Homo sapiens: one gene and its partners. The protein of the gene in region 2 interacts with the protein of the main gene of each other region in a pairwise test. Each region holds a gene or a part of one and is shown on either strand. Other genes may lie near its edges.

Region 1 (7,514 bases), on a different chromosome or scaffold from region 2:
AGTGAGGCCCATCATGGCTTAAGGACCTAGCAAGGTCAATTTCCTTCTGCCAAAAGAAGGTATCTTACAGGATAGGAGCCACTTGGACACTGCCTCAAAGCCCAACTCCAAACCATCCATCAAGTTCTCGTTGCAAACAACTCCCAGCATGTACTAGATGAAAAACAGCAGCCACTACTAGTTAAAAGAAAAACCAAATACTAGCTTTTTTCCTTTCTTTTTTCCTTCCCTCCTTCCTTCCTATCTTTTGGTGTAAAGAAACTCCAGGAGACACCAGGCCTTACCACTTCCTCACCCTAGTCTCTCGGGGAAATCTGATGAAAACAAACTGTTACAGTATACCTGCATTTTAAAGACTGGTTGGTTCCCTCCGTGCCTTGCAGCTTTCTTCCAATAAGTAGGGGGCTGTGTATACACAGAACACAGGACTAACTGGGGCACCCAGGGGCCAGCTGGAACAGGCTAGGGTTCCAGGTATTAACCCCAAGGGTCCCAATCACTCAAAGGCTGCTGGCGGCGGCGGGGCAAAGTGCAGAGGGCGGCGGCAAGGCATTTAACAAGAGGCCTTGATGTCAGGTCAAAAACATCATGGACTGATGAGCCTAAGAAAGGACAGAAATAAGAACAATGCTTTTTTTTTTTTTTTTTAAGTCCTGAACCATAAAGAGAGACAAGAGCAAAATGATGCACTGTGCCCAGCCCTTGGAATAAGGGTGACACAAGGATGTGTGCCCCTCGAGCAGGAGGTCCTCAAGGCAGCTTTACAGAGCGAAAGGCAAAAAGTGAGGCAAGGAGGGCACTGAAGCAGCAATCCATCTAAGGCAAGACTCTCCAAACGTGTGCGAACGTATTTTAATAACATTCTCGTGCATTTCATTAGCCTCCTGAGTTCACAAAGGGCCTCTGGGAAGGCAAGTCGGTTCCGCAAACGCTGGCTCTGGGCAGGTCCTCCTGGCACCTCGCTAGTCTGGCACAGGCCAGCTAAGGTGGGGTAGGGGGAGAGCTTTCCATTCCAGGCTGGGAGGGAGTGTGGAGAGGTGGATGGATGGAAGGACCCACCACCAAAGCCCGGCCAGCCTGGTTATTTTTACCACTTGAAGCTCACTGTATAGGCTCAGGGGCCACAAACTGGCAGCCGCCTGCGGACACTTGCTTATGAGCCGCCCAGACACTGCCTTCATTCCACAGCGGCTGCTTCTCAGCTCCGGGCCCCAGCTAGGGGCAGCCTGGCCCCCAGCAGGGAAGGACTGTGTGCCCCTTCACCTGGCGTGCTTCTTCAGGGTGGGGATGGGGAAACTAAAGCTCAGGGAAGCAAAAGGTCCCCGAAAAGGTGGGCTGGGGGACAAGGTGTAGGCTAGAAGCTAGAAGCCAGAACCCGGGAGGTAGTGGTTCAATTCTCCACTCAACCAAATGTCCACCTAGGTGGGCTGTGTGTGCAGGAGGTAGAGACTTACTTATCTGAACTTTTGGGTGCCCAGGCGGCTGCGTTAGCGACAAGGTTCAAAACCCCACTCCCCACCGTTGGTCCACTGATCCCTTATTTAGGGCCAGGCAGTCCCAAACACAAACAGCCCCAAACTTTGACTCCTTTGTAACCATGGTCTCAGCCAGACTGAACCAAGCTGTCCAGACAGAGGCTATTTATAGGTGCGTCGGGGACACAGACACTGGCACAATGACACACACACATTCAAGATCCACGCTGGGCCAGACGGGCCAGAGCTGAGCCCTGGATTCAGACACCTGGACACACACGGTCCCCAGATCCGGCCCAACCAGACCAGACCCCCAGAAAGATGGACACGCTCAAGAAAGGCACCCCGGCCCGGACACGGGAAAGACACACAGAGAGAGGCAGGAAGACTCGGTGACACGCACTCTTGGGCAAGACCGCGACTCAGACCCCCAGACACCCCGAGAGACGCCGAAGACCCAGACAGAGCCACGCAGCCACGCACACTCCACAGACGCACGGACATCCACTCAGAGCCCGAGACACAGCGCCGCGAACACTCCAGACACACGCCCGGAGCCCCAGACACCTCGCAGACCAGACAGTGTCTCACACGCCCCTCCACCCCCGCCCAAAGTTGATAAAGAGCCGGCCTAAATGCTCCATCGCGACTGCCCTCAGGGAAATAAAATGGAAACTTCACGGATCCGCCCGCCCCAACCCTCCCGCGCCGTGCGCCGCCGCTGAGCCCCGGGTCCGAGTCCGGGCGGGCGGGGCGCGGACAGCGGGGGCCGTGCCAGGCTCGCAGCGCCGCGGGACAAAGCCGGGCCGGCCGCCAGCTGCCGCGAGCCGGGAGGGCGCGCCCGGGGCGCGGCGGGCGCTGCCCGGGCGCAGGGCGTTCGGTCCGAGGGGGCGCGCAGGGCCCGGACCCCCGCTCGCAGCTGTGCCCCGACATAGGGTCCGAGCCCGATGGAGTCTCCGGGGAGGGGGGCGTGGGGTCACTCACTGATCTCCATGCTCTGGAACAAAGAGCGTTTGCAGTTGCACGTGCAGGAGACATTGGGCTGCCCGGCGGCGGCGGCGGCGGTGCTGTTGACCCCCATCAAGCGGTGCATGGACGGCGCGGCGGCGCGGCGCGGGGCGCGGGGGGCTCGGGGGCGGCCGGGGGGGGCTCCGGCCGGCGCCCGGAGCTGGGGCCCCGCATGCAGGAGGCGCGCGGCGGGGGAGGCGCGCCCCGGCTCGCCGGGCTCGGGTCGCCGCCAAGTTCCCGGGGCGCCGCGGGGCTCAGTGCGCGGGACCGCGCTCCGCTGCGCCCCCCCGGCCTCCCCTCGGCAGCCCCGGGGGCGTCGGCAGTGCCCGCGGGTGGCGTCCGGAAAATGGGCTGGCAGCGGGGCGCGCGCTGCCGCCGGGGCTGAGCCTCTGCCGCTAGCTTTCCCCAGCCGAGCGCCTCCGCCGCCGCCGCCGCCGCCGCCTCCTCCTCCTCATTCAAGTCCAAGGAGATCGGGTTTCGCTCCGAGACCGCGGTCGGAGGCAGGCAGACGGTCTGACGTCAGCGCTAGACGGGGCTGCCGGTTCCCACCGCGCGGGGGCCGGGGAGGGGGCGCGCGCTGCGCCAATCCCCGCCGAGGTTCCCCCGCACCCCCTCCCCGAGCCGGGGGGCGGGGTGACGGGAAACGGGGCGGGCTCTTAAAGGGCCAGAGCTAGGCGGCCCACGTAGACCCGGCACCCGCGCAACGGAGGAGGGGCGCTGTGCCCTCTCCCCAACGGCGGTCAGCTTGGAACGCCTGCCCGGCGCACGCCCGGGGCCGGGGAGCCGAACTCGGTGCCAGCCGCACCCGGGCGGGTTGCTGGTGCGCCCTCCCCTCGCCCCCGTCCCTGGGGTCCTTGACCCAGGCTCTTGGGGCTAGCCTATCTTCTGAGGAGCACAAGGTCCCTGGGGGCTCAGGGAAGAGAAATTGGAGAAAGGGGGAGGAAGCCCCCAAGATGGATCACCCATTGCCTGGTTTCGCAGGAGACTGTCCGCCTTCAGTTCTCCAGCAGCTCGGGGATCATGGCCCACTGAACCCCCAAGCGCTTTCACCCGAACCCAAGGAGGACGACCAGGAAAGACGGGAACTCGCGTAGACACGCCCGGAAGCCCTTGTCATGTAAATAGCTGTCGGGGACTGGTGTATTGTCGCCGCCCCAGCCGGCGGGACCTGGGGCGAATCCACACCCATTGTCTGCTGCCCAAGGGGCCTCCGGCTGGGGGGCGCGGCTGCGGAGTTCAAAAGGGGTATGAGCAGGAGGGGTGTACTTTTAGTTCATTAAGTTTTAATTACAGGAGTGCTACAAGAACACATTCTTCAGGTTTAAAAAGATATTAAAATATTACATAAGAGACCTCCCCTCCCTGGCCCACCTCCAGCCTCTTAAAAATTTAGTGTGTCGCCTTTTAGACACTTTCTCAAAGCTTCACTTATTTAACAGGCACTTAAGGAGCACCTACCTGTGCCAGAAACTCTCCAAATATTAACTCAACCTGACACCGACTCAGTGTGGCCGAATATTACTCTCCCCATTTTACAGAGCGGGCAGCTGGTCAAGGAAGTCGCTTGTTGAAAGTCACACAGTGGTGGAGCCTGTGTGCCAACCCAGGACCCTGGGGAGCTGCCTCCCCCTCTCCCACGTAGTCCTGATTCTTTAAGTGTCCACATATTCCTGTAATGCCTGGAGTTTCAGTAATTAGCAGGGACTTAGTGTGTTCAGAGAAAAAAAAAGCTTTTAAAAATTATTGTTACTGTGTTTGTAACAGTTTGGATAGAGAAGGAAAAGCTGGAATTTGGGAAGTGAAGGTGGCCTCGGGGTAGAACTTACCTAGACCAGAGCGAATTCATCCTGAAGAACTCAGAGAAAGCCGGTGCAGGAAGTGGGTTCCCGCTCTCCCTGCACAGGCACAGTGATGCTGCCAGAGCTCTCCCAGAAAGACCAGGAGGCTTGTTCTGGAGAAGTCAAGCCCAGGGATGTGGCTCAGGCTGGTCCAAGCTCTTTGGAGGAGTCCAAGCGTGCCCAGCCCAGAGGGAGGTTCAGAGGCACTGACCGTCTTCTGTTTGGGAGGAGAAGCTCACTCTTGGAGCCACAGCCAGCACTAGGTCAGGACCCAGGCCCCGGCCCAGGAGTGGGGCAATACCCAGCGTCTACCCCAGATGGCACCCTGCTGTGAACTGGGCGCCCTCAGCCCCTGCCTTGAGGAAGGGGCAATACCACCAGCGTGTCTTTTATCAGGGAAGATATTGCTGCAGTTTGGCCGCTGCAACTTAAGAGAAAAGCTAAGGGGTCCCCCAGCATCCCTTGGGGTGCCACTGCAAATACTGGCTGGGCCTGGAGATGACCTGGGTCCCATTCACTTCCTAGGGTGAAGGAGGTCATCATTACCACCCCTGCTTTCAGCCATTTCTTCATTCATTCAATCAACAAACTGGCTGAGCTGCAACCCTGAGCCGGGGAATTCAGCCACTCCAGACACAGCCCCTGCCCTCCGGGAAGTCTCGGGAGACCTGGCTAGTCTGGCTGGGAGAAGTCACACGTTGATTGTCTTGGAAGTGAGATGGCATTTACACAATGGAGGCTGCACTGCCAGCAGGCAAAAATAACCAGTTAATTCAGTGGCTTAAAGAAACCAAACCTACCCACAACGCTTGACCTCCCATTGATCCATCTGCGACACCGGCAGTGGCTACCATTTATTGAGTGCTGATGGTGTCACCTGGGATTGACTTAGTGGTCTCTGGCGCTAGTTCCGAAGTTGATTCTGTCTGGAGAGCTTAATGCAGTGTTCAGACCTCAGGGTCCGAACCTGAGGGTCACCCAAAGATGAGTGGGACATAGCTGTGTGACCTCGGCTGAGTGCTTTCACCTCTCCAACCTCAGTTTCCTCTTCTGCAAAATGGGGTGGCTTCATGGCACCTTCACGTGGTGTGATTGCGAGGAATGAAGGGATCGATGCCTTGCAAGTAGAGGAGAAGGGGCCGGATACATCTTAGTTGTTATGTTATTTAATCATCTTGGCAACCCCGGGAGGGAGGAACCACTATCATTTTATTTTCCATTTTGCAGTTGAGGACAATGATGATTCCAGCACAGACAGGGCCCCTGACGGGGCAGTAGGAAAGGAGAATTGCTTTGGAAGGAGCATAGGCTGGACTGCCAGCACTCATAGGAGGCTTCGTGTGTGCCCAGGACTGCGAGAATTAAATACAGGACACCCAGTTCAGTTTGAATTTCAGATAAACTATGAATAATGATTAGTGTAAGTATATCTCAATTTAACTGGATAGCTTGTATTTTTCTTTGCGAAATCTGATAACCCTAGATGTGCCAGGGACTGTGATGCTGGCATTTTGGGCATGAAGGGCAGAGCCCACTGTCAGGCACAGGCAGAGAAGGTCACAACTCCCTGATTCTACCCAGGAGAAATGGGCAGAGCCAAGGTGTTAATGGGCTGAGGAGGGAGGGCTCACTGCTGGGAGTGGGAGTGGGGAGGGGGCACCGCGATTGGGCAGGCCTGAGTCCCTGGGAAGAATGCCACAAGTCAGAGGCAAAAAAAAAAAGGTTTTGTTCACTCATTGAACAAACATTCTGCTCCTATTCAGTGTGAAGCTCTGTGCTGGGTATGGGGCACAGGGCTGGGAAGAAAACCAACTCCCTGACCTCGTGTGACATTGTGGGGGACAAAGGGACTAAAGACACACACACACATGCAAACTCATAGCTCAATGAGGTCAGGAGGTCATTTCAGACATGGTGATAACAGGCCAAAGGCCAGAGTTGGGGTGAGATCAAGGAAGCCCTCCCTGAGGAGGTGGCATCTCATTCCACCTGCAGTTACCAACCACCCACAGGTGCAGCCCCAGCCATACTGAGGCTCACAGGTGAGGCTGACATCACATGTGTAAAAAGATGAGTCCAGGTGATAATTTCAGAGAGGGACGAGACCTGGGAAGAATATAAAAGGAGAGGGTTTGGAGGCGACTTGAGCCCAAAGGGTTGGGCCTCCTCTCTGGGGAGATGTGGGCTGGGCATGTAGGGGACAGTAGAGAGGGGATGCCAGGCCAGTGGGGGCATCAGGAACTGGGAGACTCTCATGGTCCCAGCAGGTTTGGAGTTTGGGACACATTTCTCAGCCTGGCTGTGGCCATGGGGTTGTGAAATGGGTGTGTGAAGCAAATGGATTGTGAAATGGGTGACTGCAGAGACAGGCCTTTCTGGGACTCCAGACAGCGTGTGCCACCATCCGCCCTGCCCATGGGTTGAATCCGCGGCCGGGGGGATTTTCCAGAGGAAACGTCCTGTTTCAGCAGGTTAAGGGGCTTTGCTCCCAGCAGCGCCGCGCATCTGTGCTCTGCTGGACTTGTGTGCAGAGCCAGCTTCGTGGGAGTGTGACCCCCCTGCACTCTCCAGGGCCCCATGCTCTGAAGGGTCGGGGGTTTATTGTATTATTTTATTTATTTATTTTTTAGTTTAATTTTTTCTACTGTTGACATCGTGAAATTCCTAATAGTTAACAGTTTCTGAACACGGGGGCCTGCAAATCTGTAACCAGTCCTGCTCAGATGCCAGGCCCACACTGGCAGCCAGTTGGGACCCCATGGAAGTCAGTGTGGGTTTTGGCCACAGCTGAGGGTGGCTGGCAGTGTTCTGACTGTGCCCGCTGGCCGAGGGTGGCTGGCCACTGTGGAAAGTGCCTGACTGAGCCAACAAAAGTCCTGCTTGGGGAGCCGGTTGAGGGGACAAGGCAGAGGCCCTCCTCAGGGCCAGCCGTGCCCCTGTCTGCCTGCCACCCCCGGCCTGCCTGGACGGAGCTGCCTCTGCAGAATTAGTCTTGGGAAACCTTAGGCAGATTAATGACCTCCCCTCCCAACTTAGCACCTTTGGAAACACCGTCCAGCAGGGTCATTTTCTTCCTCAGGTTGGGGTTAATTGGGGCTGTCAACTTTCACAGGTTAGCAACTTTGGATTTCATTTTTTTTGTCTTGTTTTACTTTTAAACACTAGTAAGAGCCAATGTTTATTGGGCACTGCC
Region 2 (7,000 bases):
TCCCACAAGGACCAGGTGAGCGGCCCTGGGTGACCAGCTGGCAGGCGCAGAACACTAAGGCCACACCTAGTTCTCCAGCCCCTCACTTTGCCTGGGAACGGAGATGAGGCTCTGACAGCACCCAGGAGGCAGAAGGTTCACAAGGGAATACAGAGGCCTGGGCCACCTCAGAAGGTGCTGTGCTCCAGAAAAGCCTGGTGCCTTGTAGGAGGACAGGGGGCAGTGAGGAGGGAGAAGGTGGTGGGTGTGGACGGGAAGCTGGTCTCCTAACTCAGAAGGAGGAGTATTTGCCTAGATGCCGCTTGCCCCTGCCTGGTCCTGGCATATCTAACAGTCCTGCCTGGGCCAGGACTAGTTTGTCCTGATTGCAGGGTGAGGTGCCTGGATTGGAGGGATGGAGCCTGTGCTGGCTTCTAGCCGCAGTCCCCTCCAGCCCTGTCAAGTCCCCCTGTGGCTTTTGGCCATAAGCTCCACTTTGGCGCAAGTGTGGATGGTGATGACGCCTTGACTGCAGGGGTGCTGAGGGCGAACGGAGAGCTGCCTGGGAGGACGAGGCCTCCACTGCAGTGGTACCTGCTGCCTAGGTTTCCCCTCCTGGCCAGGGCAAGGATCTGATGGTCAGTGCTGGCTAACGCCTCTCACTCAGGAGCCACCCTCATCAGCACCCCCTGTTCAGTCTTCAGCTGCGGCTAGGTGGCCCATGGCCAGAGTACTAGAAGCAGCTCCAGGAAGCAGCTGCAGTCCTCCAGGGCTGCTCCAAGGGCCGGCACCCTCTTCTAGCCACTCTGTCCCTGCATGGCCATGAAGTGCACTGCTCTGCTCCCAGCTCTCCTGCCCCCCCTCCCACCCCCAAACCTCTGCCTCATTCCACATTCATTCCTCGCCAGTGACTTGTGGGCCCCTCTGTGCCAGGCACTGGGGCACGGAGATAAGCAGCATGCAGTCGTAGGCTCTGTCAGAAGGGGGCAAGCCCCCAGGCCAGGACATGCACCCCCGAGAGGCAAGCCAGGGATAGGGAGAAGGATAGCACTGGGGCTTGGAGGGGGTGCAAGTTCAGACCGCTGGGGCTGCACACAAGCCTGTGTGGGACCTCTGGCAAGTCATTTGACCTCTATGAGGCTCTGTTTGCTCATCAGATGTGGTAGTAACAGTGGCTGCCCTCAGAGGCGGCGCGTGTTCTCCAAGCCTCTGGCACACACAAGTACTTCGCATACTTCTAGAGCAAGTATGCAAGATACAGGGCTGGAACAAGCATACTGCTGCAACACGCTTGCTCCAGCCCTGCAGCAGCACTGAGCAGAGAACAAGTGTCTGCCTGGGTGGCTCTGGGCTCACTGCACACAGGGAGACAGTGGCTTGTGGAGGATGCATGACGCTGACGCTAAGAGCTAGCACGGAACACCCCAGGTCAGTGTTCCAAGTGCTCACGAGTCAATCACTTAATGTCCGTGACAGGGCTATGGCCACTGTTCAACTGGGGAAAGGAGCTACAGAGGAGTGAGTGAAGCAGCCTGCCTGGGGCCCAAGGAACCCACAGCCGGGTCAGAAGCAGGGCTACCTAGGCCCAGGCAGCGTCAGGCGGCATGTCATGCCTGCAAGCTCTGGTGTGTGTAGGATAAGTGAGTCCCTGTGCCTAGAACTCAGGGTGGGTAGGCAACGGGGCAGGAGAGGCAGGGGCCTGGTGTGGAGGGCGTTGGTGTCAGGGGTTTCCACTGCTCCTAGAGGTCAGGGGCATATTTCAAGCTTGGGAGTGACATGGTCTCGGTTTTTGTGTTAAGAAGATGCAGGCTGAGGAGGGAGGACCGCCTGAGCCCAAGAGTTCGAGGCCAGCCTAGGCAACATAGGAAGACCCATCTCTTAAGAAAAAATAAAGAGAGAAGGAAAATATTTTAAAAAAAGAAAGAAAAAATGCTGGTGGTCTCATGCAGCCTTTTGGTTTGACTTATCACCTGTGTGCCCCGGCCTGCCTGCTGAACGCCAGCCTTATACCTCCACTGCCCACCAGACACCCCTACTCTATGGCTCCCGGACATTTCAGACAGCATCGCAAAACACAGCTCCTGATATTCCTCAGCCCTCCTTTGCAGCAAACGGCTTCTCCATCCTGCTAACTCTCAGGCCAAACCTCTGGGAGCCATTCTTGACTCTGCCATGTCCAACATGTGAGTCGGGCACGAATCCTTTCGCCACCTTCACAGGTGTCTAGACCTGCCCACTTCTTGCCATGCCCACTGCATCCACCTGCTCATGCCACAGCCATCTCCCCTCTGGATCTCTCCCCGACCACATCTCCCTGGCTGTGTCTCCGCCCCCGTCTGTCCTGCACACAGCAGCCAGCAGGGCAGGTCCCCCGTGCTGCGCAATCCCTCGGTGGCTCCCGTGTCCTTCAGGCTGAAAGCCAAGGTCCTTAGAAAGGCCCAAGGCCCTATGTGCCCTGCCGCCCTTACCTCTCCAACCCTGCTTGAAACTGCCAACCCCAGACCTTGCACTCCTCGGCCTCCTTCCTGCCTGATTTTTCCCACAATACTTATCACCATCCGACACCTCAAACGTGATACTCATGTACTGTGCATCTTCTACCATTAGGACGCAAGCCCCACAAGGCAGGGATTTTGTCTCTCTTGTTCACTGCAGTATCCCCACAGCCTAGAGAAGGGTCTGAGCATGGCACCCGTGTGTGCTGACTGGAGTGGGGAGACAGGACGGAGTGAAGGTAAACAGAGCACGTGGGCTGGTGCAGAGAGAAATGCAGGCGCTGGGCTTAGCCAGCATCACCCACTGAGTCCTCACAATAGCCCCCTGAAGTGTGTTATAATGTCCACCTTCCACAGGCATGAAAACAGGATCAGAGAGATCAGGTCACTTGCCCAAGGTCGCACAGCAAGTAAGCAAGAGAGTGAGGTCTGGCCTCAGAGCCCAGGGCTGCTGCATGGCACAACTCCAGGGGACATGGGTCGTGGGGAAATGAAGTTGGGGTCATAATCCCTGCACTGTGCTGTGTTGGTCCCCACAGGGCTGTGAGAAAGTTGGGGAGGGGAATGGCTTGAGATAGCTGACTCTCCATCAAAAGGGGCTCTGCCAGTCTGTCACTGGCAAAACAATCTGAATGGTTCAGCCAAGGAACAGATGGCTCAACTTCTACCCTCTTTGAGATCATCTATATTTTGAACAGGAGACGATGGCCTTAACCTAGTAGTTCTCAACCAGATAGGGTCGACTTTTTTCCACCGAAAGAGGTTTTTGGCAGTGTCTGCAGGCAGTTTTGATTGTCATGACTTGGGGAGGGGGTTACTACTACTATGTCACGGGTAGGGGGCCAGGGATGCTGTTAATAGGCCTACAATGCATAGGACAGCCCCCACCGTGAGCATGATCTGGCCCAAAACGTCAGTCATGCCGCCGTTGAGAAACCTGCCTCAGCCAAAGAAGTGCTCTGGGACCCACTGCCCCCCGTACTGTTTCCAGAGAGCATGTCGGTGCGGGTCTCAGATGAGGAGGGCCCATGGCCCTCACCAAAGCCTCTAAGGGCTCTGAGACCCCCAAAGGTTAAGAGCCAGGTGGGTCTCTTAGCTCCTTGCTCCTCAAAGCGTGGTTTGAGGCCCAGCAGCATCAGCATCTCCTGGGAGCCAGTGACAAAAGCAGTCCCTGCTCTGCCCTGCTCCCACTGGACAGGAATTCGGGTCCAAGCCAGGTCTCAGGGGTTTGTTTGTCTTTGCTTTTTTTTTTCTTGCTATGGACTAGAGAACCAGGCGCCTTGTACAAACTTCAGATATGAGAAGCCCTGAACTAGCCGAGATGACAGGGGCAGCTCTGGACACAGACCTTCTCCAGCATGAACCTCAGGGACAGGCCCAGCCAGCTGAATGCCTGGGTCACACACACTCCACACCAAGGTCAACAGGAATTATGCAGAACACCGGGGCAAAGCTTCTTTTTGTTTGTCTTTTCTTTTCTTTTCAGAGTGGGTCACGAAGTACCTGCTCCCTGCGACTCACCTGGGCTGACCCAGGCCTGTGGTGGAAGCAGAGGCTGGAAAGCATCTGGGAGGTCACAGATTCCATCCTCCACCCCTTGGCTGCCCCCAACTTCACCACAGCAGGCAGCTGGGCACCCCCAACATCAAACGCCTCTGCCAGGCAGCTCTTCAGCTCATTCTCTGGGTTAACCAGCCTGAGTGTAACGAAAACCTCCGAGAGACTTGAGGCTGACCTAGCACAGAGAACACAGCCCTGACAGGCCAAGGGGCCCCGGCACTCACTTGAAGATCTCCCTGCTCTTCCCCAGCAGGGACTCCAGGTAGGAATAGCCCAAGGCCCTGTAGAAGCAGTTCCCATCCCCTTTGGTCTTGCGGATGGCGGTGAACCTTTTGCTGAGTTCCTGAGGGGGACAGAAAGAAATGTGGGCATTTGCACCAACAACGGCTCTGTGTGGTTTGGGCACTGGGACTGGCCAGGTGCCCCCCATCTCTCCCAGGAAATGTCTGCTCCCTCCCTTCAGGCTGCTATCCCCTCAGCCTCCCACCCTCGTTCATTCCCCTGATATAAAAATACACTGCATTGTCCTGTGTGTCCGTCCCTGCCCCCAGGCAGCCTACGGTCCGGGAGGGAAGATGGATAATTAGACAGTGGCATTGTGAGGGGACAGGAGTGCCTGGCTGGGTGCCACGGGGCACTGGCATTGCACTGGATTTTGGAAGTTGGGGAAGCCTTCCTGGGGGAGCAGCACTGAGAATCGGGAGCTGGCAGAAGTAGGGGGTAGGGGGTTGCATGTGTGAGCAGGGGCGGGAGGGGTGGGCTCCAGCTCCACTCCTAGCAGTAAGTAGGTGTCCCTCTGAACTGGCCTGGAATCCCCTTTCCTGCCTCATGGGACTATAAGCAGCATTTTGACAGCAGAGGATGGTTTTCAAGGGGTCTTGGAGTTCCTGTTCCCCCCATAGCCATGAGAAGGCTCAGAGCCGACTTGGGCCCACCTGAGGCCAGCTGGCAGTGGGGAGGCAGGCACTCTCTGGAGCCCCTGGCTCATCTCCCAGGAGGGCTCTGGGGGACACAAAAGTCAGTGGGCTGCAGAGCCCAGCTCCTTCCCTGGAAGTGCCCCGCAGCGGCGTTCGGATCACATGATGCCCACACCACTACCCCTGGCTGCTGATGGACATCTGACCCAAGCTGGACCTATCAGAGTCTCTGAGGATAAGTAATGAGGCCCAGCAACGGTGCTGCGTGTCTGAGAGGAACTTGAAGGGAAGGGCCTGTGGGGCCAGTGCCAGAGCAAGCCTGTCCTGCAGCGAGAGGAAGACCTGCAGAGTGCAGAGAGCGGCCAGGGCCTCCTACCAGAGGGACAGAGTGGGCACCCAGCTCCTCCTGCCATCCACGGGTGAGTGCTCCATGAGCGATCCCTGCAGCCTTCCCACAAATCCCTTTAGCCTCACTGGCGTAAACTTTCCCTCCAAGAGGTCTCCCAGCACAGCAGTTATGAATGTGGCTTGAGACTCAGCTGCCTGGGTTTAAATCCTAGCTTGGCCACTCATGAACTAAATGGCCACCACTTAATTTGTGTGCCTCAGTTTCCTCAGCTGTAAAATGGGGGTAATAAAAGTACTTACCTCACAGAGTTGTAATGAAGTATTGGTGAGTAAATAAAACATTAGGATAGTGCTAAACTTTTCAACAAAAAAAAATCCTTTTTTTTTTTTTGGAATGAAAGGATTTATCGCTAAGGCAAATGTCCAACATCAAAATATCCTAGGAATCCTTTCATTTGCCCAGGAACCTGGCCCAAACTATCGGCCTTCAAAGAGGCATCACCATTACACTCCCAACTCCAGCCTGTTTAGTTTCGGATGCTCTTCTCCCTGCCCTCTGCCTCACCTCGATTTTCCTCCGGTAAATCCTGTTTTCAGGATGGTCCCGAAGAATGGATAGAATGTCACATTTTTCTGATATTAGGTTGAAAGATGTTTCACTCTGAAAGATAGGGAAGGAAGAAATGCTGTGACAATTTCAAAAGCAACGGACGGGACTCCCCGAGCTGGTGGCCTCTGAACTGCCGGTTACAGACAACAATGAATGAGACCTTCCCACCTTCTCATGCTGGGAGTATGTTACCAGCATCCTAGACGCCCGTTGGGATCACCGCATTTCCAGAACAGGGATAGTCAGGGTCGGGGCCATCGTGAAGAGATAGCCCTGGTTATAAGGAAACTCATCTTTTTACTGGAAGCCTGATTCATTTCACAGAATGTGTACCTCAAACTTAACGAACCTTCATGCTGGAGGATAAGGCCCTTTGTCTCCTTCCATCCCTCTTCTCTCATTCATGCATTCATTCATTCGTTCATTCATTCTTTTACTCATCCAACAATTCCTGAACATCCACATGCCCAGCACTGTGTCACATGCTGGAAATACAGAAGGAAGGACGTCTAGCACTCCCTCACCCACAAGGCTCACAGTCTACAGGGAAAAACAATCAAGATAGGGGGTGATAAGGTCACCAGAAGAGGCCGCAGTGTGTGGCACTGGTACATGGAGATGCCAGAGAAGGTGTCAGAGATCTGAGCTCGGGGAGCACAGGGCAGGAGGGCATCTTCATGCACCACCTACCGGCGAAAGTTTACACTACAGCCCAGCTCTGGGTCTAGGTCAATTCCAACCCAGAAAGACAAGCCTCCTACAGGCAGGATCTCTCCAGGCCAGAGAAGAAATTGGCGGACAGAGAGGAGGCAACTGCAAAAGGAAGCTTCAGGGTGAAGGAAACTGCAGGAGACACGTTCTAGCAGCCAACTCCCCGTGGGCCTGGTCTCCGCCTTGTGCTATCTTGTCAGCAGGGCTCAAACAAGCAGGAGATGCAACTCTAGCCTCCAACCCACCCAGAGCCGCTTTGATTGCAGCATGAACATACTGTGAGAGACATGGTGTTAAAGCCACTTATAGTTTACAGCTTAAAATAAATGAGGCTGGCTCCTGCACACAACCCAGGGAGACCATTTTTATGCAATAGAGCA
Region 3 (7,764 bases), on a different chromosome or scaffold from region 2:
TGGTCTCTAGAGAATAAAACACCAGCAAACTAGCTGCAAAAGAACATTATTTTTATGCCAATAAAACCTATGCAAAGCTTTAAAATGTAAGCCATATTCAACAATTTAAATTATTTTAAATTTGAATTTGTATCTCTTTGAAAGCATTGAATCGAAACAGACAACAGATGGACAAAAAATACTGCCTTTGGAATCTGACAGTTCTAAGCCTGAAGCCTACTTTGCCTTCTACTCACTAGTATGACCTTCAGCAAAATTCTAAACCTCTCTAAGCCTCAGTTTTCTTACCTGTATGACCAGGCACAACCAATTACGTCATGGGGTTACTGTGACAATTAAAGGAGGTATGTCCAAACAGCCCTGTAGTAGATGGTCCAAAAGTGAGAATTGGCCAGGCGCGTTGGCTCACGCCTATAATCCCAACACTTTGGGAGGCCAAGGCAGGCGGATCACCTGAGGTCAGGAGTTCGAGACCAGCCTGACCAACATAGTGAAACCCCATCTCTATTAAAAATACAAAAAATTAGCCGAGCATGGTGGCGCACGCCTGTAATCCCAGCTATTTGGGGGGCAGAGGCAGGGGACTCCCTTGAACCCGGGAAGCGGAGGTTGCAGTGAGCCGAGACTGCGCCATCGCACTCCAGCCTAAGCAACAGGAGTGAAACTCCGTCTCAAAAAAATAAAAAATAAAAAAGTGAGAACTGCTACAATTACATTACTATTTTGTTCCAAAAGCTAGAATTCAGGTTTAACTGTCTACAACTCCTCATGATATCCCAGTTCTCCAGCTCTCTTTCGCTATAAAAGTGGCTTCCTTATGAAAAAGGAAGAAAACTCATCTCTGTTCTTCAAGGGCAACAGTGGAGAGTCAAAGAGATGTCACAGGTACATTCTGAAACAGAAGGGAAAGAAGGTTGGGTGACCCATCAACATGTAGAGGTCAGTTCCCACGTGGCATTGGCCATTTCCAGTTGGGAACCACTTCTTAACAACAAGCCTAATACAAGCACCATCAAAGGGCAGACAGGCAAAGAAAGCAAAGAGGCAAGGAAGTCCAACTTTCCGTTTCCATGATCCACTGTGGAAGCAAATATATAACTAACAAAACAACTGGGTCAATTAGCCCCCACTTTGGGAGCATTTTTAACAGTGTGTTTTGCAGTTTTTGGTAGTTACTGTTATTAATAAGGTAATTCTTTAATTTCTTTAGACAAACAGTAAGAAGGCAGGCAGAGGAAAGGAGAAACAAAAATATTAATGCAAGCTGAAAAGCATAAGCAAAGCTTTCAGAAAGAGCTGAGAGAAACCTCCACCTTCCCAAGGAGTAACACCACAAGAGTATCTGTCCTCTCTATACCACTGCTGTACACATTTAATCAACTCAGTCCTTGAGAATAGCAGGAAATTTACTTACAGAATGTACCACCGCCTTTAAAATATAATGCTAGCAAAGAACCGCTGTCAGGTTCTGAGTTCTTTTCTGCAGCCTTCTTCAATAAGCATTTACTGACCACCTACAAAGTGCCAAACACTATGCTGTTTATTAGGGAAACCCTGCAACACAGTTTGATTCCTGTCCTCAGGGAGATCAGTACGAATAGGGAAGAGTCGAGTAAAGAGATCACCACCACAGAGAGTAAACACCAGGCACAAAGGAAGCCCAGACAAGCTCCAGTCCTATCAATATCCAGCCAACCAGCCCAGGGTTAGGAACTTTCTGAACCTAGGGAACACTCCTGAGCACCACAATTGAACCGTCACAGCAGTATTCCCACACCCCCACAGGTCCTTAGGCAGACACACCCACTGCATGGGCACAGACGCACAGCTGTGTCTGTGCATACATGTTTTGGTCATTAGTTTAGTCAACAAATACTGAGGGCCACACTAAACAGGCAGTTACCAGTGCCAGCTCGGGTCCTAATTCCTCATGTGACTTCGGACAAGTCACTTCCTGAATTGGTACTGGTTCATACCAAAGGCCACAGAAGACCTTGGAATATTCCTCCCCTCAGCTGTCAGCCCTCCTCCCTCGGTGGTGGTTCCACCCTTTCCTAAGCACTAAAAATTTAAAGGCTGAGACCATGAGTCAGTATTATTTTGAATTAACCATGTTCCTTTAATTTTTTACAGTGACCACTCCACCTCATTCCTTTCCTCCACCCACCCTGAACCGGTCTACATTTGAGATTTAAGCGGGGTGGCGGGGCGGGGATCCCTATGCAAATCCCTGACCTCCGGAGTTTTCAATCTAGTTGAGTAACAGAATCAAACATGAAGAGAGATATGTAAGATAAGGTACACCAAGCACTTATGACTAAAGACATTGCAAGGCCAAGAGCAGGTGAAATGCAGCGGGGGCGGACCGCACCGCGAGGGTAAAGCCTCAACGCCCCCCGGGACTTAAGGAGGGGAGACCTCTGGGCAGGAGAACTGAGAAGGCAAGTTCCCTGGAGCAGAGGGAGCAGCAGGGGTAGAGATCGGACGCCGGGAGACCCCAGGCGGCGGGCCGCAGCAGGTCCCGGCAGTCAGACATGTGGGACACTCCCGAGCGGCCAGAAAGGATGCAAGGCGGAGGCTGCAGTCGGGAAAGGAGGAGGGTCCGCGGGGCCGGAGAGGAGGGGCTCGGGGAAAGGACCGGAGGCGGACGCCGGGGAAGCGATGGGAAGGGGTCTGAGAGGCCGGGGGGGCCCACTGGGAGGGCTCTCGAATGGGCTGCTCTAGGGGAGACTGAGAGGGCGGACCTGGGGAAGGTCAGGGTGGTCCAGGGAGGTGGGCGGACCCGTGGCCAGGAGCCTCAGGGAAAATTAGGGAGTGGGGACACCGCGGAGGTGGCGCGGTGCGGGGTCCCCTCAGAGGGGCGCGAGGCTGGGCAGCTCTAGAGGAGAATCTGGAGAGGCGCGGGCCAGAGGGGAAAGGAGCTAGGGTCGTCCGGACTAAACAGGGACACTCACCTGCGAACCAGCGTGGAGAACACCAAGACGCCACGGCGATTCCTCGCCTGCTCGCCTGCAACTGCCGCACGTCCGGCGTCCTGGCCGCCGTTCTGACGTCACGCCTCGGCGCGCATGCGCGGCGGGCCCCGGCCGGTGGGGCGGGGTGTCTGGGTGGTTTTCTGAGAAACGGGACGGAAGGCGGCAGGGGGCGTGGGTCTCCCAGGAGGTCGGCGCTTCCACTAAAAGGAAGTGTTACAAAGTGAGATCCTGTCTTAAAAATATAAAAATTTAAAAAAAAATTGTTAGCACCCTAATCTTGGTTTCTAAATACCGCTCTCTAAAAATAGGGCCAAGGCGCCTTAGAGAAATGGGCGACTCTAGGACCCGGGCGCAGAAAGCTCCAGCTGAGCCGGGAGCGTTTTGTAGGCCAGAAGCTTGAGGTGCTCAAAAAACTGAAGGACCGGGCGTCCAAGGGCGCAGGGATCTACCCAGAGAGCTTCCGGGGGCCGCGCCTGGGACAATTTGAGCAGCAATATAAAGTACATTGCATTAAGTTATAACCTAAAGTATAAAACAGCCCAGAGCCCGTGCTGCTATAAATACGTGATTAAATAAATGAGGGAGAAGGGATAATCTTCCTTGCAGAGGAATTCTAATAATACCTCATCCAGAGGGGTGTGGTAATCCGTCCACACCCACCCTGAGTGTGGCCTATGCCTGGGGACGACCTTTCCAAGAGTACAGTGTGGAAAGAGGGCTGTAGAGCCACTCCACGTGAAAATCAAAGTGATTAGTCACTGCACTTGCCCTTGACATGTGATTAAAAAAAAAACCGTGACCTCAGTCTAACTGAAAGATAAACATCAGACAAATCTCGTTTGTGGGATATTCCTCAAAACACCTCACCAGTACTCCTCAAACTATCAAGGTAATCAAAAGCAAGAAAAAAACTGAGACACTGTCATATGCAACATGGTGATGTAGCTAGGCTATAAACTTAAAATAAAATTTAAGTTTAGGTAATAGTAGTTTTTAGTTATAAGAAATGTATAATGGTTATGTAAGATGTTAACATTAGGAGAAATTGTGTGAAGGGTATACTAGCTTTATAACTTTTTTGTAGTCTAAAATTATTCCAGATGAAAAGTTGGGGGTTTTCTGAAGACAATAGAGGGAAAATAAATGTTAGCCAGGTGAGATGGTTCATGCCAGTAATCCCAGAGCTTTGCGAGCCAGAGGCAGGAGGATTGCTTGAGCCCAGAAGTTTGACCTGCAATCAAGCCACTGCGTTCCAGCCTAGCAGGGGTTGGGGGGTGGTGTAGGGGTACTGCCTGGAAAGAGGCTTGAGAGAGCCTCCTGGCAACCCCACTCCTAGGGTGCTGAAAATGTTCTATACATTGATCTGAGTGGTGGGTACGTGTGTGTAAGTAAAACTTTATCAAGCTGAACACTATACTTAACATTTGTACATTTTTGGCCGGGCACAGTGGCTCACGCCTGTAATCCCAGCACTTTGGGAGGCCGAGGCAGGCAGATCACGAGGTCAGGAGTTTGAGACCAGCCTGACCAACGTGGTGAAACACCGTCCATACTAAAAATACAAAAAAAAATTAGTCAGGCCTGGTGGTGCGCTTGTAATCCCAGATACTCAGAGACTAAAAATACAAAAATTAGCCAGGCGTGGTGGCGGGCGCCGGTAGTCCCAGCTACTTGGGAGGCTGAGGCAGGAAAATGGTGTGAACCCGGGAGGCAGACGTTGCACTGAGCCGAGATCACGCCACTGCACTCCAGCCTAGGCGACAGAGAGACTCCATCTAAAAAAAAAAAAAAAAAAAAAAAAGATTTGTACATTTTTCTGTGTATAAATTATATCTAAATTTAAAAGGGAAAAACTCTTAAAAAAAATATTGGAAGAGCCCTATTATTATTGGTCTTCAAAACCCCAAACTCTGCCAATCAGGGCCCCTGTCTTAACCCAGCTCCTCTCTGGGGAAAATTTAAAAAATGCAGGGTAGGGAGTCCTATGATGCCTGCAATCCCATCTTTTGCAAGATATTATAGCTTAGTCAACACAAGAGTTCAGAGATTTGTGTGACATGGGGTTCTTCCTGGTTCCGCTGCTTCTGGATGAGCTCGGGTAAATTGCCTGACATCAACAAGCTTCTTGACCAGCCCTCATTAAGGCTATACTAGCCCTGACCACCTTCAGGGTCAGTCTTAGGGACCTTTCAGGGTCTGAGTTTGGAGTATCCAAAAATACACTAACACATTCTCTCTGAGTGATGGGACTGTGGATGACATTTCTTTTTTCTACTTTTCTGCATTTTCCAAGTTTTCTTTCATGAATATGTATCACTTCAACAACAGGAAAAAGTAATATTTAAGGCTGGGTGTGATGGCTCACGTCTATAATCCCAGCACTTTGGGAGGCCAAGACAGGAGAATTACTTGAGCCCAGGAGTTCAAGACCAGCTTGGGCAACACAGTGGGACACTTTCTCTACAAAAAAATAAAAATAAAAAAATTAGACTGGCATGGTGGCATGCATCTGTAGTCCCAGCTACTTGAGAGGCTGAGAGGGAAGCTTCACTAGAATCCGGGAGGTCAAGGGTGCAGTGAGCCATGATTGTGTCACTGCACTCCAGGTTGAGCAAAAGAATGAGACCCTGCCTCAAAATAATAATAATTTTTTTTTTGAGATGGAGTCTCACTGTCACCCAGGCTGGTGGACAGTGGCACCATCTAGGCTCACTGCAACCTCCGCCTCCTGGGTTCAAGCAATTATTCTGCCTCAGCCTCCTGAGTAGCTGGGAATACAGGTGTGCGCCCCCACACCCAGCTATTTATTTTGTATTTTTAGTAGAGACAGGGTTTCATCATGTTGGCCAGGCTGGTCTCAAACTCCCGACCTCGTGATCCACCTGCCTCGGCCTCCCAAAATGCTGGGATTACAGGCGTAAGCCACTGCACCCAGACAAAAAAAAAGTAATATTTTAATAAAGTTCAGTTTAAGTAGGCGTTCCAGTACCTGGAGGAGGGAGTGTCCCATAACAAGTTTTCTGATTCAGTAAAACTGGCTTTCTGGGCTGGGCGTGGTGGCTCACGCCTGTAATCCTAGCACTTTGGGAGGTCGAGGCATGCAGATCGCTCGAGGTCCAGAGTTCGAGACCAGCCTGGCCAACGTGGTGAAACCCCATCTCTACTAAAAATACAAAATAATTAGCCAGGCGTGGTGGCGGGCACCTGTAATCCCAGCTACTTGGGAGGCTGAGGCAGGAGAATAGCTTGAACCCAGGAGGCGGAGGTTGCAGTGAGCTGAGATTGTGCCACTGCACTCCAGCCTGGGCGACTGAGTGAAACTCCAACTCAGAAAAAAAAAAAAAAAAAAGAAAGAAAAGAAAAACTGGCTTCCTGTTCATGTTTATTGAGAAGAGGCCAGGGGAAAGAAGGCTGGGTGCAGGTGAGGACGCCTGCTTTCCAGCCCCCTATCTGAATGTGCAGCCTCTTGTCTGAAACTGAGAGGGAGAAGTCCAAGAGTTCAAAGAGTTGCATTGGGACTCTGTACCCATCAGTCACCTGTCTCTGTGGCCCTCAACTGGCTCAAACCAAATTACCTGCTGCTAAGCCCCACTCCATTTCTTGCCCAGTTACTAGTATGCGTTTCTTTATTGAAGAAAATAAAGTGAGAAGTTCTGGTGGTTAAAAAAGAAATTCCAGGCCAGGCACATTAGCTCACACCTGAAATCCCAACATTTGGAAGGCCGAGGCAGGAGGATCACTTGAGGCCAAAAGTTCAAGACCAACCTGGACAACATAGTAAAACAAAATATACAAAAACATAAGTAAATTTAAAAAAAAAACTCCAAATAGAACATGAAGTAAAATACCATGTCTCCCCTGCTACACCCCACATAATTGGGAATGTGGAGCTTCCAAGGAATAGGAGATAACAGGCACTCTTCCTTTACTTTTTCTTTCTTTGTGTTTTTTTTTTTTTTTTTTGAGACGGAGTCTCGCTCTGTCGCCCAGGCTGGAGGGCAGTGGCGGGATCTCGGCTCACTGCAAGCCCCACCTCCCAGGATCACGCCATTCTCCTGCCTCAGCCTCCCAAGTAGCTGGGACTACAGGCACCCGCCACCACGCCCGGCTAATTTTTTGTATTTTTAGTAGAGACGGAGTTTCACCATGTTAGCCAGGATGGTCTCCATCTCCTGACCTCGTGATCCGCCCGCCTCAGCCTCCCAAATTGCTGTGATTACAGGCGTGAGCCACAGCGCCCGGCCGAAATTTTTTATATGTATAAAAGTAGCCAGGGTGGAACAGTAGGATTTCAGCTGCCCCACAATGTTTACCAACACCCAGGTCCATCCCAAACAGACACACAGCACTAGGGAGAAGAGCAGGGGCAAGCAATGCAGAGTGCAGCGCAGGAAGCCGTTCCAGCATGCTGGCTGCACCTTTGCTTCTCCTATACGGAAACTTTGTAACTGCTTTTTGGGGTGGGAAACAATGAGTTTTTGCATGCCTAAATTTTACTTCATTTTGCCCTCAACATCTACTAAGAAGCCATGGCTTTCTTCAGACAGTGGAATCCATTTCTTTCTTTCTTTTTTTTATTTTTTTGAGACGGAGTTTCACTCTTGTTGCCCAGGCTGGAGTGCAATGGCTCGATCTTGGCTCACCACAACCTCCGCCTCCCAGGTTCAAGCGATTCTCCTGCCTCGGCCTCCCAAGCAGCTGATACTACAAGCACCCACCACGACACCCGACTAATTTTGTATTTTTAGTAGAGACGGGGTTTCTCCAGGTTGGTCAGGCTGGTCTCGAA
Region 4 (6,158 bases), on a different chromosome or scaffold from region 2:
AGGCTGAAGCAGGCAGATCGCTTGAGCCCAAGAGTTCAAGACCAGCTTGGGCAACATGGTGAAAGCCCGCCTCTACAAAAAAATACAAAAATTAGCTGGGAGTGGTGGTGTGCGCCTGTAGTCCCAGCTACTCAGGAGGCTAAGGTGGGAGGATCACTTGAGCCCAGGAGGTGGAGGTTGCAGTGAGCTGAGATTGCGCCACTGCACTCCAGCTGGGTGAGAGACTGTCTCAAAAACAAAAACAAACAAAAACAAAACAAAACAAACTCGGGCCTTGCTTGCTCTGAGATGGGCAGAACATGGGGCTTGGTGCGTGGGCTATGGAGCCAGAACAAGTGCCAAATGTGAGTTCTAACTCTGCCTCTCACCAGCTCTGTACCATCGGCCAAGGTACTTACCCTCCTCAGCTTCCCCATCTAAGATGGTGCTAACAACAGGGCTCACCTCACGTGTGCTGTGAGGACCGAATGCCTTAACAAACATGAGCAGCAGGCACCAGCCACACAATAGATGTCAGCTTTATTGCGCGGATGGCTCAATGGATTTCAACTCTGAATGGCCTCACTGTGCTCCCACATCACACACTTAGGGTGGGTGCTGAAGTTGCCACTTAAAGCTCCCCAGCAGCTGTGAGACCCTTAGGGCAGACCCCTGTCAGATCAGCTGTAAGATGTACCATAGGTTTTTCTTGACTACTGAGAACAAATTTAGCATCAACTTGGGGAGACGCCCAAGGGACTCACTGGCCCAGGACAGTCCTCTGTGCCTCCCTCCCCAAGAACCACTCAGTCTAGTCACCTAAGACTTTTTTTTGGGGGGGAATTTTTTTTTTTAATAGTTATTGAGTGTTCTACAGCTTACAGTAAATACCATAGTTACAAATTCTTGGCTTCAATCTTTCAGAGTGATCACTGTCTGATCTTCAAAACAAAACAAAAACCCAAAAGAATCCAAAACAACAAAACAAAACCAGATTTACACTTCATACACACAGGCAAGGCCATGGGGCTTTCCAATCTTTACACTCCGGACTGTGTTTTGAAAACACCTATAAATTCTTTGATCAAACTACTTGGAAGACACTGGTCAAAGGTTTATTATTATTATTATTATTATTATTATTATTTTAAATTTTATTTCTTTTTAAAATGTGAGTTCCAATAAAATTTAAAAATTAGATTCCAACCTGTAGATTAAAATGAATTAAAAAATACAAAATCATATACAACGCTCTCTTCACAGGGATGTTACATGCCATGAGAACAGGTTTCTCTGTCATGTGATATGAAACAGGGAAGCAGATGCCTTTAAGTCAGGATGGGGACAGGCCCTTGGGCCTTTCAAGATTATTACAGACAACTCCAAGTAGCTAGAGGCCTGGCCTTACCCCCCCTGGGTAAGGAGGAGCTTGAGTCACACCATAGATCCAGACTATCTGGCTGACCCGAGGAGAAGGTCTCTGGGACAGTCTCCTCTCTTTCCCTGACTCTCTTAGGCCTGAGGAGAAAGGCTGGGGTCTGGAGATGCTGGTCTTGCTGGGGTCAGGCCCAAAGCTGATCTCACCCATTTGATTCCTATGGGCCGGTACTTTGCAAAGCTGTTACATCTGTTCTCCTTAGGAAGGAAAATCCCCCTGCTATCAGTGGCTGGAATGGGTAGAGGACCTCTACCACAGCAAGGATATCCAGGGACTATCCATGTGGCCATAGGGAAGCAAGTGCTGTTTTGTCCCTTTCTAGCTTTGTGGCAGCCAGTCCCAACTCCTGTGTGCCTCGGTTGGCCTTTGGGTTGGACTCAACAGCATGCACCACAGAAGATATCCACTGGAGAGACTGAGGGACTGGGACCCAAGTCTGGCTTAGGCAGGGCTGGCCATGGAATGTTGAAGCTGGCCTGCCAGGAATTTTGAAGGCTGGGTCCTGGAACCATATAATGCCTAATTTCAGAAACGAGGAGTTTTCTAGGAAAGGGGCAGATAAGTAAAGGACAAACCCTGCAGCCCCCTTGGCATGCCTGCCTGTGCGCTCAGAGGCTCCGGTGTGGAATCCCATCAGTTAGTCTGGCGTGTTTCTTCAGCTCTGCGGGTGGGTCCCAACTGGCCCACTCTACTACTGCCCCTCTCTGGATTCCCAAGCTTGGCAAGCAGCGGGGGCCGCACAGCCAGTAGTGATGTGGGAGAATACAGGATGGAAAAGCAGACTTCCACGTATTTTCACTTAACTGCAATTGAGGAGGAATTCTGATACAGATGGTGATATATAAGACAAAGTTCACAGGGCCCAGAATGGGGCCCACCCCCTCTGGGCACAGAACAAAGCTGAGGAATTTGATATGGAAGCTCTGAGCCTCGCTTAGTCAGTGCCTCGCTGGGAACCTGGATGAGTCCTATCTGTATGAGGAGCCAAAACTTGGTGACCAAGGGGCCTGTCCTTTTATACTTCATGTGATTCCTTTCTGAAGGCCATCAGAACAAAGCAAGCCCTCCAAAGAAGGACCCCCAGATCTCTGGGAACGGGGTACCTCAAACTTGGAACAATTCGGGTGGCCAGGGGTAAGGATGCTCAGAGTCTGGTTCTGGTCCTCACCCATGGGAAAAGCAAGCCCAGGGACTTCAGTCTGTACGTTTTGTACCAACTCACTGGATCTGGACAGTGGGCAGGCTCTCAGGGATTAGGAAGCCAGGTGTGCAGGCTTACCAAGGACATGGGTCTCCCAATAGAAAGATGCCTCGTGCTGTCCTTGAACATGTCTTCGGTCCTGGGCATTGTGACCCCAAAGTGTTTTGTCCAAGTGAGGCCTTTAGTTGCAAATTCTCATCCTCCTTGTGCTGCCAGTTAGATGTGCCTCTGGGTCCCTCCCCAGGGCTCATTACAGGTCCTGGCCCAAAGCAGTTCATACAAATCTGCTCAGCTCAGAGACTGGGCTTCCCAGCTCTATAAAGTACAGTTAGCCCCTCCCTCCATGCTTGCCAAGAGACCCAGCAGGTGGCAGCAGAAAGAGCAGAGGATTTGAAGAATCACTTCCAAGCTGTGTGACCTTTTAGCAAGTCTCAAGCCTCCTGAGCCTTAGTTTTTTCATCTATAAAATGGAGGACTTTGGCAACCAATGTCAAAGTACTTTGCATACCAAAAACGCTCTGGACAGGTGTGTGTGTCTCTGCTAAATATTCAGGAAAGAGGATATACATTTTAGGGTCATTGCCAGGTAAGAAAGAACAGCAACTGTCCTATCTCATGAGGAAGAAATTAAATATGCATTTTTTTTCAAAACATGGCAAACCATTATGTTTCAGGCTTTCACTATTTGCAGGCAATCCAGCTCCCAGACTCAAACTTCTTGACCCCAGGCCAGTGAGGAGAGGGGGTCAGGTAGAAGTAGAAGAATTCAAAAGGGTTGGCTGGTAACGAGCCATCTGTACCCCTGATCCTGGCCATAGGTGTTGCACTTGGGGAGAGGCAGTGGCATGAGGAGGAGAGAGGGGTTTGCATCCTGGGGCCAGTGCTGTAGCTCACTGTCAGGCGGCTACATCCCTTGTCCTCTCTTGCTTGCCTGCCTTCAATGAGACGGCCCTTCCAGCTCTGACTTTTTGTCTAGCTTGACCACCGTGCCATCTAGAATCTTTGGAGGTATCTACCTATGGTACCTCCCACTAGATCTCTGTGACCTTACCAGTAACTGTGCCCATCCTACCAGAGGCACATGACTGTCCCCGCTCTCCTGGGCTCAGTCCTTTTGCAGTGACTCCCCAAGCTTGGCTAGGCTTGTGGATCTCCATCACAGCAAGAGGCTGAGGCCGGCTGAACTGGGGCTCATACTGAAAAAGGGGTGCTGGACCTGGGCTCTTCCAGACCACAGCCTTTCAGTGCCTTATTTTCACCTTGGGGCCCCCCTTTGCTCTTGAATTACATAGTAGGTGCTAAGATAGGGCACAGAGCACAGATGCTTCAGTACGTGAGCCTGTGTGGGGATCAGATGGAGGGGAACGAGACAGCAGACAGCCTGGGATTCGAGTGGCTCTGTCACTTATTAGCAAGTCACTTGACTTTTCCAAGCCTTGATTTCCTTATGGATCAAATAGGAGAAATAACCTCTATTTCATCGGGTTAAACCAGATAATTTATGTTCAACTGTTCTGTGAACTGTGAGGTCCAGCTGTTAGTTTTACTTACTGGTGTTGAAAGAACAAAAGTTACAAGGTCATTCCTAGGTCTCCTCTTCTTCCTTTCTCCTCTCTGTGGTTCCACCCCAGCCCACATGGAGGCAGCAGGGTTCTGGGAAGCCTAGCGGATACCAGCATGCTGCTCACTGTGGGCCTGTTCCCTTCCATAACCTGTTTCCTCATTTGTCAATTGACTGTAATAACTCTAACCCTGTCCCTCTCAGGGCGAGTACATGAAAGGCCGTGAAGTGCTTTGACCTCTGTGATGCACCTGACAAATCCAAAGGTTTCTATTATTATTATCATTATTATTATTTTGGCATTTTTCAAACACGTATGACATAATCTAGAACAACCTTCACCCACCTTTACAAAACCAAAGAGGGTGGAAGGAGGTATTTGCAAAAAGTGAATTAACACTGGAAAACTTTCTATTGTTTTAAAGTGAAACCTCATCAGCACCCAGAACAGATAATTTAGAACAGCTGAATTTTTTCTTACTGGTCCTAAAGTTCCTTGGAAGCCCAGGAAGGTGGGCCCCCAAACTCCTGGCTCTAGGCCAAGGAGGCTGATGGGCTTTACCCTCCTGGGAATGGCTAGACAGCTTCTGAGCTCCTTCCAACCCAAGGGTTTCCTGATTTTTCCCTCCCTTAGGGAGACATGGGAGGTTGGGGTAAGGATATGTCCAAGTTTGCATGAATTTTAAATGAAAGCAGTTTTTTAAAGTCCCAAATGTTGTCAATGATCCCATTTTTTACAATAAAATGTTCGTGCCCCACCCCCAGAGGGGCTGCTGGCCCAGCCAAGCGCTGGGTGCCGGAGGCTGCTGCTGGGCAATCCAGGCTCCTGGCTGAGACTAGCAGGGACCTCCTCGTCCCAGGGGTCCCTCTTCTCCCAGATGAGCCTGTCTCCTGGGCCTCATCCTCATTCTCCTCTCCTGATGACTCCCACTGTCTTCCTCCTCTTCCTCTCCTCTCGGGATGAGGGGCTACTGTCCTAAAAGCATGGCCTCTCCTTTTCGGCCAGTCCACCTGCTCCTTCTCCTGGAGGTGGAGTCAGGTACAGGACGGAAGTTCCAGATGTCTTCACAGAATTTCCAAATGCTATTTCTTCATTTGCAATTTCTGTTCCTGCCATCCGCCCCCATGTAGCCTCTGCCCAGTCTTCAACCCCCGCCTTTGGAGTCCGTGGAGGAAAAGAGCAGAAACAGGAGCCCAGAGACCATTCCAGACTCACCAGGTATGGGCGCTGCCGACTTAATTTTTACAAAACCAAGCCAATCCGTCCCTAGGTAAATTTTTGTAAGCAAGGTGCCCACTAGGTAGGAAGGCTGCATTTAATGCTAATTTACTGTAAGGTCTAGGGAAGTCCTTTCCGCTTCTCTGGGCCTCAGTTTCCTCATCTGCCAAATAGGGAAATGGATGAGATGATTGCTAAGGTCCCTTCAGTTCCATGAGTCTATGAAATGTTTATTGCTATTGCTTTTCCTTCACTATCCTCACCTTCAGAGCTGCCAGCACCCACCTGGAATGTGGTTCCTTCACTTGGGCCATGAATGGCACAGGTAACCAAGAGCTTGGCCTGCCTGCAAGCTCTATGGTCAGACAGGTGAGTCCTGGCACTGGGAAGGGCAAAAGAAAAGGGAGAGAAATGCCCTAGGTTCCCACTCCAATCAGGAGGAAGCTCCTCATCAGAGTGGGTCCATGACAGCTCAGAGGCTGAAGTCTGGATGACACAGGGCATCCGGCCTTCCAAGGCCTCGGGATGCTGGGATCCTACCACCCTGCAGCCGCTTGGCAGGTCTAAGGACAAAATCACCTTTTGAGGAAGTGCCAGGTCAGTTAACATCACTGTGCAAATCAGAAGGTCCAGGGCCAGATGCTTTGGCCAGAGACCTTTCAAACCAAAGCCATGAGGCAAGCACCGCTCCTCCCTTCTTCCCTCTCCTTCCCCACAATGCCCTCCCTCCCCCCACCCTCCCCCAAATTCTAAAGACTTT

The links.
Region 1: the proteins of OTUB2 (region 2) and PMEPA1 interact in binary tests that used the Homo sapiens proteins (3 or more experiments, as listed by UniProt).
Region 3: the proteins of OTUB2 (region 2) and PLEKHB2 interact in binary tests that used the Homo sapiens proteins (3 or more experiments, as listed by UniProt).
Region 4: the proteins of OTUB2 (region 2) and FAM168A interact in binary tests that used the Homo sapiens proteins (3 or more experiments, as listed by UniProt).

Annotation. Positions count from the first base shown.
Region 1 is NC_000020.11:57,707,015-57,714,528, forward strand, and holds the start of PMEPA1 (protein TMEPAI), read right to left. Parts: upstream 3,002-7,514; 5' UTR 2,569-3,001; coding exon 2,460-2,568; intron 1-2,459. UniProt on the Homo sapiens protein: Functions as a negative regulator of TGF-beta signaling and thereby probably plays a role in cell proliferation, differentiation, apoptosis, motility, extracellular matrix production and immunosuppression.
Region 2 is NC_000014.9:94,036,340-94,043,339, reverse strand, and holds part of OTUB2 (ubiquitin thioesterase OTUB2), read right to left. Parts: intron 5,961-7,000; coding exon 5,865-5,960; intron 4,378-5,864; coding exon 4,259-4,377; intron 1-4,258. UniProt on the Homo sapiens protein: Hydrolase that can remove conjugated ubiquitin from proteins in vitro and may therefore play an important regulatory role at the level of protein turnover by preventing degradation.
Region 3 is NC_000002.12:131,100,589-131,108,352, reverse strand, and holds the start of PLEKHB2 (pleckstrin homology domain-containing family B member 2), read right to left. Parts: upstream 3,018-7,764; 5' UTR 2,955-3,017; intron 1-2,954. UniProt on the Homo sapiens protein: Involved in retrograde transport of recycling endosomes.
Region 4 is NC_000011.10:73,399,987-73,406,144, forward strand, and holds the end of FAM168A (protein FAM168A), read right to left. Parts: 3' UTR 501-6,158; downstream 1-500.